Linked DNA regions of Homo sapiens. The protein of the gene in region 1 interacts with the protein of each later gene in a biochemical or structural test. Each region holds a gene or a part of one and is shown on either strand. Other genes may lie near its edges.

Region 1 (3,500 bases):
AAATTTAAGTGTTTAGAAAAAAAAAAAATCATTCACATCGTCTCTTGCAAGTTTATGCTTATCTGAACCTTTCCTGTAAGGTTTTTGTTTTAACACAACCCTGACCACTACGAATCATTCAGTACAATACGAGAGCTTACCAACACAAGGGGTTTAGGAACTAATAATATTCTCCAAAAAACACAGAGGCCTCTAACAAAAGAACATACAATATGAAGCTGTTCATATTCTTGCTGGGCATCTTTGAGCACTGCTGATCACTGTTAGAAATAACTCCTGTATCCTAATGCTCTAATAAATGACTCGACCATAAATACACATGGGGTTTCATGCCATTCTTACCTGTGTAAGTGCAGAACACTCCACATACTTGACAGCCTTCAGGTCACGGGCCAGCTTTTCAGCAGTCTCTGGAGTGATAGGCTTCTGTTTGTTCTTGGCAAGTTTCTCAATAGTAGAGGGGTCATCTCTGAGATCAATTTGAGTCCCAACAAGCAAGAAAGGAGTCTTTGGACAGTGGTGAGTTATCTCAGGCACCCACTAAAAAAAGGTATTTTAAAATACACCTTTGTTAATCAACAAGCCTCTAATGCTATTTATAACAGGTCAGTAGAAATTCTGAGATGATCTTCTTAGGGCAAGAGTATCTGATCAGCTTACCTTTTCTTTCACGTTTTCAAATGAAGATGGAGAGACCACTGAAAAACAGACTAGAAATACATCTGTTTGTGGATAACTCAGCGGTCGTAATCTGTCATAATCCTCTTGCCCTAGAAAAAAGAAAAATATTGGAGAGAATTCAGCAACTGAATCTTGGTGTCCTCAAAGTGTTAAAAGCATGCTGGTCATTACTCAAAAAGCAACTTACTTATCTAATAAAATGTATGGCTTTGTAATATAATATGTGGGCAATATTCTCAATCAGCTAATTCTACAAACTTCAAGCACTCAGAACAGCAATGAATTTACTATTATGTTATTTGCTTTTATTACCAGTTTGTGGTGTTCAATCTTTGTGTCCATTAGAAACCCAATAATAAATGTAATAATAAACTCTTGCTACAGAAATGGTTAAAAATCAATCCTTGTAATCCCAGCACTTTGGGAGGCCGAGACAGGCGGATCACCTGAGGTCAGGAGTTCAAGACCAGCCTGGCCAACATGATGAAGCCTCATCTCTACTAAAAATATAAAAATTAGCCGGGTGTGGTGGTGCACATCTGTAATCCCAGCTACTTGGAAGGCTGAGGCAGAAGAATCACGTGAACCCAGAAGGCGGAGGTTGCAGTGAGCCGAGATGGCATCACTGTACTCCAGTCTGGGTGACAGAGTGAGACTCCATCTCAGATATGGTAAAGAAACAATCACAGTGAAATCATCTAAGGAAAGAAAAACCTCACTGAAACCCAGATGACAAAATCCACTGCCCATCATGACTACAAACAGAGGTTCACATATTTAGTTAATGCGTGTATATAAGACCGGTATCTGAAACTGATAAAGCCTAGAAAACAAATTTAGCAAGAATTAATCGATACTCAAAATAATAAAAATACTTAGAATTAACTTAATCAGAGGCAAAAGACTTGGATAACAAAAAAATTCAAAACTGCTGAAAGAAATTAAAGAAGACATAAATAAATGGAAACACATCCCACATTCATGAACTGGAAGACTTAATATTGTTGACATGTCAACATTATCCAAAGCAACCTACAGACTCAATGCAATCCCTATCAAAATCCCAACAAGGGATAGTAATCTTGAAACAAGGGACAATAGACAAAATAATCTTGAAAAAGAATAAAGCTGAAGCACTCCCATTTCCTGATTTCAAAACTTACTACAAGGCTACAATAATCAAAACAGTGCGGTATTGGCATAGGGAGATATATAAGACAATGGAATAGACTAGAGAACCCAGAAATAAACCCTTACATATGTGGGCAAATGATTTTTCTTTTTTTTTTTTTTTTTTAGACAGAGTCTCACTCTATCACCCAGGCTGGAGTGCAGTGGCACAATCTCGGCTCACTGCAACCTCCACCTCCCCAGTTCAAGAGACTCTCCTGCCTCCACCTTCTGAGTAGCTGGGACTATAGGCACACACCACCGCACCAGGCTAATTTTTGTATTTTTAGTAGACACAGGGTTTCACCATGTTGGCCAGGCTGGTCTTAAACTTCTGACCTCAGGTGATCTGCCCACCTCAGCCTCCCAAAGTGCTAAGATTACAGGTGTGAGCCACCGTGCCTAGCCTAGCTCAAATAATTTTTGATAAGGGTGCCAAGACCATTCAGTGGTAAAAGGACTCTTCAATAAATGGTGCTGAGAAAATGACATATTCACAAGCAAAAGACAAAGATGAAACCTTACCTAATACTATATACTAAAATTAACTCAAAATGGATAAAAGGTCTAAATGTTAGACCTAAAACTTTAAAACTCCCAGAAAACATAGGGCAAAAGATTCAGGTGGACTTGGCAATAATTTGTTTGGATATCACACCAAACCACCAAAAAATAGACAAACTTCATGAAGCTGTGAAAATTTTATACATCAGAAAATAGTATCAACAGAATAAAAACGCAACCCACAAAATAGGAAAAAATATATGCAAATCGTGTATGTGATAAGAGATTAATACCCGGAATCTACAAAGAACTCCTAAAACTTACCCCAAAAAAAAAATCCCAATTCAAAAATGGGCAAAGAACTTGATTAAACAGACCTTTCTCCAAAGATATATAAATGGCCATAAGATGCTCAACATCACTAATCATTAAGGAAATACAAATCAAAACCACAATTAGATACCACCTCACACTAATTAGGATGGCTACAATTAAAAAAAAAAAAAAAAAAAAAAAAACAGGAAATAAGTGTCGAACAGAAGAATGTGACTATATCAAACCCCACGTACTGTTGGTAGGAATATAAAATGGGACAGCCACTGTGGAAAACAATACGGAGGTTCCTCAAAAAAATTAAAAACATGATCCAACAATTCCACTTCTGGGTATATACCCCAAAAGAACTGAAAGCAGGGTGTCAACAAGGTATCTGTATACCCATGTTGATAGCAACATTATTCAAAATAGCTAAAACGTGGAAGCAATTCATAGCACCAGTATTAAAACTGGAACCCAAACATCCATCAACTTGTTAATGGATAAACAAAACTGTGATATATTCATAGAACAGAATAACACTCGGCAATCAAAAGAAACAACTACCAATACACACAACATGGACAACTCTCACAAACATTATGCTATGTAAAAATAGTCACACAAAAGACTACATATTGTATGGTTCCATTTATATGAAACCCTAGAAAAGCAAAACAGTAGAAACAAAGAAAGCAGATCAGTGGTTGCCTGGAACCAGGTCAAGGGACAGGGCTGACTGCAAAGGGAACCCAGAAATAAACACTCACATATATGGTCAAATAATTTTTGATAAGGGTGCCAACACCATTCAGTGGTAAAAGAACTCA
Region 2 (5,295 bases), on another chromosome or scaffold:
AAATAAGGATGAAAAGACTCGACTCATGGGAATATTGTAAGGATTAAATTAAAGAACAGAGGTGAGAGCACCAAACACATACTAGGTTCTCAATAAAGACTGGCTCCTCCTTCCTTATTTCAAATTTCTTTCTAGGTTCAACATGTTTCAAGTATTGGTTTACATGTCCTTACTTGCCTTTCACACATATCTAATCAGTAATCAGTCATAGCAACTGACAGCTGAGACTTCATTGAAAACAATGGTTTCCAAATAGTTCTCTGTGCAGCCTCAAGAGTTTGCCAGAGGCATCACAGAGTCCTATAGGGCTGGATTTCAGATGCCCTATTGCTGGCTATCAGAGTAGCTCCAGAGTAGCAGAGTACCTGCTCTATATACTGGGCTTTTAGCTAAGTTGTCATTTAATGAAACAGATTACCATGCTTAAAATTTGAGAATGAATGACTTGACCTACTTTCCTTACTTGACAAATGAGAACAGAGGTCTATGGCCGGGTGCAGTGGCTCACACCTGTAATCCCAGCACTTTGAGAGGCCACAGTGGGTGGGTCATTTGAGGTCAAGAGTTTGAGACCAGCCTGGCCAACATCGTGAAATCCTGTCTCTACTAAAAATACAAAAATTAGCCAGGTGTGGTGGTTCACACCTGTAGTCCAGCTACTCGGGAGGCTGAGGCAGGAGAATCGCTTGAACCCAGGAGGCGGAGGTTGCAGTGAGCCAAGATCACGCCACTGCAGTCCAGCCTGAGTGAGAGTGAGACTCTGTCTCAAATTAAAAAAAAAAAAAAAAAAGAAACAAGGGTCTTAGATATGACATGACTCATCCAACCCTACAAAATGCCAGGACCCAACCATCTGCCCACCCCACTGGACCTTATCACACACCTATATGACTCAACTACATCTGCTCTAATAGCACTGCTGAATTAATTAACTTTTATTAAATGGTCTTCAACCTTACAGAGGCTCTTTATTCCTTATCTCTGCAGTGACAAATTCCCATCTAGTTTGTGAGTTCTAAATAATTTGGTCTCATGTTTTATTTCTCACTACTCACCTCCACCCACAGCTCCATTCTAGACATGTAGTCTAGTCGCATCATGCTCTTCCCTCCTTTGTACCTTTGTTCACATCGCTCTCCTGCCTCGAATGCCCTCTCTTGTCTTACATGCACACCCAAATCCTTTCCACCTTTATACATCTGGCTCCGGTTCCACTTCTTTTAGGAAGCTTCCTAATGCACTGCTTCACTGGCCTCTTTCCTGAAACTTCTCTTATTTTTCAGTCAGTAACATAGTTAATTTTGAAACAGTTCATCACTGTTTCAGGTATATATGTCACATTTCCCCAACAAGACCATGGGTTCACTGAGTTTAGGAGCCACATTCTGTACTTTTCTTCTATCTACCAAGGCATGTAACAGAATTCAAAATATATAATATTCAATAAATTGCAGTGAACCCTACACATTCATGGTTTCAACCAACCCTGAAACTGTTTGAAAAAAAAATACAACAATACAAAATAATACAAATTTTAAAAATACAGTAACAACTATTTACACAGCATTTATATTGTAGTAGGTATTATAAGTAGTCTAGAGATGATTTAAAGTATATGGGAGAACGTAAGTATATGCAAATACTACAACATTTTATTTATTTATTTATTTATTTATTTATTTATTATTATTTTTTGAGACGGAGTCTCGCTCTGTCGCCCAGGCTGGAGTGCAGTGGTGCGATCTTGGCTCAATGCAGGCTCCGCCTCCTGGGTACATGCCATTCTCCTGCCTCAGCCTCCCAAGTAGCTGGGACTACAGGCATCTACCACCTAGCCTGGCTAATTTTTTGTATTTTTAGTAGAGACGGGGTTTCACGTGTTAGCCAGGATGGTCACAATCTCCTGACCTCGTGAACTACCCACCTCAGCCTCCCAAAGTGCTGGGATTACAGGCATGAGCCACCATGCCCGGCCAAATACTACACCATTTTATATAAGGGACTTCAACATCTATGGATTTTGGTATTGGCCGGGGGTGGGGAGAATGGGTGCTGGAAAGAATCGCCTGTGGATACCAAGGGATGGATATACGGGATGGGCACAATGATTCTGCATGCAAGTGCCAGTGAGCTTCCTGTCCAAAGGACATCACCTGGACTCAGGAAGCAAAAACTTTCTCAGACGAGCCATAACTACCACTGTCCCCCAGTTACATTCATGCTCACCCCTAGGCTACCAACTGTTATTTGTGTCTCCCCTCCTTTCTCTGACATGCGCCTATCGGGAGAGCTTATCTACCAAACAAAGGAGTATGTTAGACCCTAAATTTTACCTGTTCACTGGTGGCTGGTGTTTCTAGGATTTCAGTCAAGGTCTCTCCTGGCTGGAACCGGATGACATCCACAATTAAACGTTTTGTACTGAAACGAGATGGGGGAGGCATTTAAATATTACCAGTGTTCTAGTTCCTCTCAAGTGGACCGAAGCAGCAGCAGCAGCAGCAGCACAAACAGTACCTCACAGAAGTCCCAAGCGGCAGCTGCCAGTACACAGTACTCAAGGCACAAGGCTTATTTACCCAGCCATTCCATAAGTAGGTACGAGGGTTAGGATTTCCAAGATTTACATTTCACTGTAGCATATTAGCAAAATAAGGCAGATAAGTCCTGTACCAAGTACAATATGCGAGGTGATTGGTGACTGGGATTATGACAAGTACGAGAGGTCAGGATGGTCATTTCAGGTAGGACCCAGCAGGTTCCTCTCCAAAGGCCAAGAAACCTTCAGATTACATTCATTTCATTCTTCCTTCTTTTGATACTCACTTCAGTAAGATGGTTCGAGCATCCATTTCTGCATTCTCATCTCCAGGCACGTCGAACTTGTTGGTCAGGGTGAGAGACACTTCCGTCTTAGCCAGTGCCTCCTTATTTGGGTCATTTAAATTGCCAGAGCTTTCCCCTGAAGTTTTGGGAGGGTGGAAAGAGTCAGCGTAATAAAGAGAGGAGATATTGGGGGGAAATAATACAAATATAAGATGATGCAAGTCTAAGATAATACTTGAATCACCTAACACATACAGTGTGACGAGAACAACTTTTACTGAGAAATAAAATGTTATGCCAAATGATAAAGGCAAGGGATCCATAATAACTCCATAAATGTTTGAGAAATCATTTCAACACTACAATATCACAATTCTCTCTGAAAACATTCTTTCTGGCTGGGTGCAGTGGCTCAGTCCTGCAATCCCAGCACTTTGGAAGGCTAAAGGAGGAGGATGGCTTGAGGCCAGGAGTTCGAGACCAGCCTGGGCAACATAGTGAGACTCCATCTCTATTAAAAAAAAAAAAAACAACTCAGGAGGATCACTTGAGCCTAGGAATTTGAGGCTGCAGTGAGCTATGACTGCACCACTGTACTTCAGCCTGGGCAACAGAGGGAGACCCTGTCTCATAACAAACAAACAAAAAAATTCTTTCCTTTAGAGGACTTTTAATTTATGTATCTGCAATTTTTTTAAAAAAACACAAGCTGGCAGTATGTATCTGCGTTTAAAATGATCTTTTCCTCTGACTCCAGTTCCTTATAGATATTGATCACATCTGGGCTTTTGTTGTTGTTGTTGTTTTCTCTCTTATGAAACTATCAGGATCACATCTATTTTATTTCTCAATGTATATCCAGAGTTTGGTATAGTGCAAAAAATAGAGGAGGTGACAATTACAACACTTTTCTGTCACATTCCCTTTTGATCTTCCAGGCAAAAGTTAGAACTCTACCTATCAGGGACTCGATGGTGGGCACCTCGCCGAGGTCGTCCAGCAGTTCGTGGATTGGATCATTGTGCTCCGGAGCAATGGCATCCTGGTGATCCAACAGGAGCTGCAAACACCAATGATCAACTCCATTTATACATTCAACTCTTCAGCCCGTCCCTCCCTAGAATGTCTAACAATGATCTGCACAAAGAGGTTCCAACAAAGTTCCTATATTCAAAGAAACAACAAGCAAATCCTCAGCAAACTAACCCAAATAAACAATATGATATATAAGGCACCACACCAGGCTCTGTTGAATGACTTATGTTATGATATAAGAAGAGGAAATACTGGTATTCTCTTAACCTCATGGCCATAAAGGATTCAAATGTGCCCTGTTTGAGAAAGAACACTGGCTGGGTGCAGTGGCTCACGTCTGTAATTCTAGCATTTTGGGAAGCCAAGGCGGGTGGATCACCTGAGGTCAGGCGTTCAAGACCAGCCTGGACAACATGATGAAACCCTGTCTCTACTAAAAATACAAAAATTAGCTGGGCGTGCTGGTGTGTGCCTGTAATCCCAGCTACTAGGGAGGCTGATGCAGAAGAATTGCTTGAACCCAGTAGGTGGAGGTTGCAGTGAGCCAAGATTGCGCCATTGCACTCCAGCCTGAGTGACAGAGCAAGACTCCATCTCAAAAAAACAAAACAAAACAAACAAACACAAAAAACCCACAAAACACTGAAACTCAAAGTTCAATACCCAAAGTCATCAATGTACCCTACTGCCAGTTCAAATAAGTCACGTGCACGCTTTTACTTAATGTTTCCAGTGTATGACATGATTTAATTCAGAGAAAAGTATACCAAATCAATGTTATAATTATTGTAGGGGCACTCAACAAAGTCTTCAAGGTGCCATTATCCCCAGTGATGCCCTCAGAAATGACAGTAACCTGAAATTTCATTTACATTTTAACATATGCCCTTGTTCCTGTTTTACATGTCCATGTCCCCAGAGGGGAAAAAATGATTTGAAAAATCTGAAGAAACATGGAGCTCCAGCTTCCAAGGGAAAAATCCACTCCAAGGCTACACAGAGAAAGCTAGTATTCTAGATCATGTTAGAAAAATAACGCAGAGAGCTAGGGTAAAAAGAAAGAAGAGTAAAAGCACTATTTTATTAAGGCAATAGATAAATTTAGTGGGATTTTGATTCAGTAGGCCTGGGGCGGTGTCCAGGAAACTTCATTTTTAACTATCAGCCCATAGGATTCTGATGCAGGTGGCCTGGGAAGACCTTTTAGAAACTTAGCAGTAGATACTGTTAAGAATAACAAGCAAAAGGCCAGGCGTGGTGGCTCACGCCTGTAATCCCAGCACTTTTGGGGGCCGAGGTGGGCAGATCATGAGGTCAGGATATCGACACCATGCTGGCTAACACAGTGAAACCCCGTCTCTACCAAAAATTCAAAAAATTTAGCCAGGCACGGTGGCGGGTGCCTGTAGTCCCAGCTACTCGGGAGGCTGAGGC

The links. Proteins that work in one complex are often made in the same cells at the same time.
Region 2: the proteins of CDC42 (region 1) and IQGAP1 form a complex in vitro, tested with the Homo sapiens proteins (6 studies listed by BioGRID and IntAct).

Annotation. Positions count from the first base shown.
Region 1 is NC_000001.11:22,083,709-22,087,208, reverse strand, and holds part of CDC42 (cell division control protein 42 homolog isoform 1 precursor), read right to left. Parts: intron 771-3,500; coding exon 661-770; intron 541-660; coding exon 343-540; intron 1-342. UniProt on the Homo sapiens protein: Plasma membrane-associated small GTPase which cycles between an active GTP-bound and an inactive GDP-bound state. In active state binds to a variety of effector proteins to regulate cellular responses. Involved in epithelial cell polarization processes.
Region 2 is NC_000015.10:90,484,621-90,489,915, reverse strand, and holds part of IQGAP1 (ras GTPase-activating-like protein IQGAP1), read right to left. Parts: intron 3,887-5,295; coding exon 3,784-3,886; intron 2,963-3,783; coding exon 2,827-2,962; intron 2,422-2,826; coding exon 2,334-2,421; intron 1-2,333. UniProt on the Homo sapiens protein: Plays a crucial role in regulating the dynamics and assembly of the actin cytoskeleton.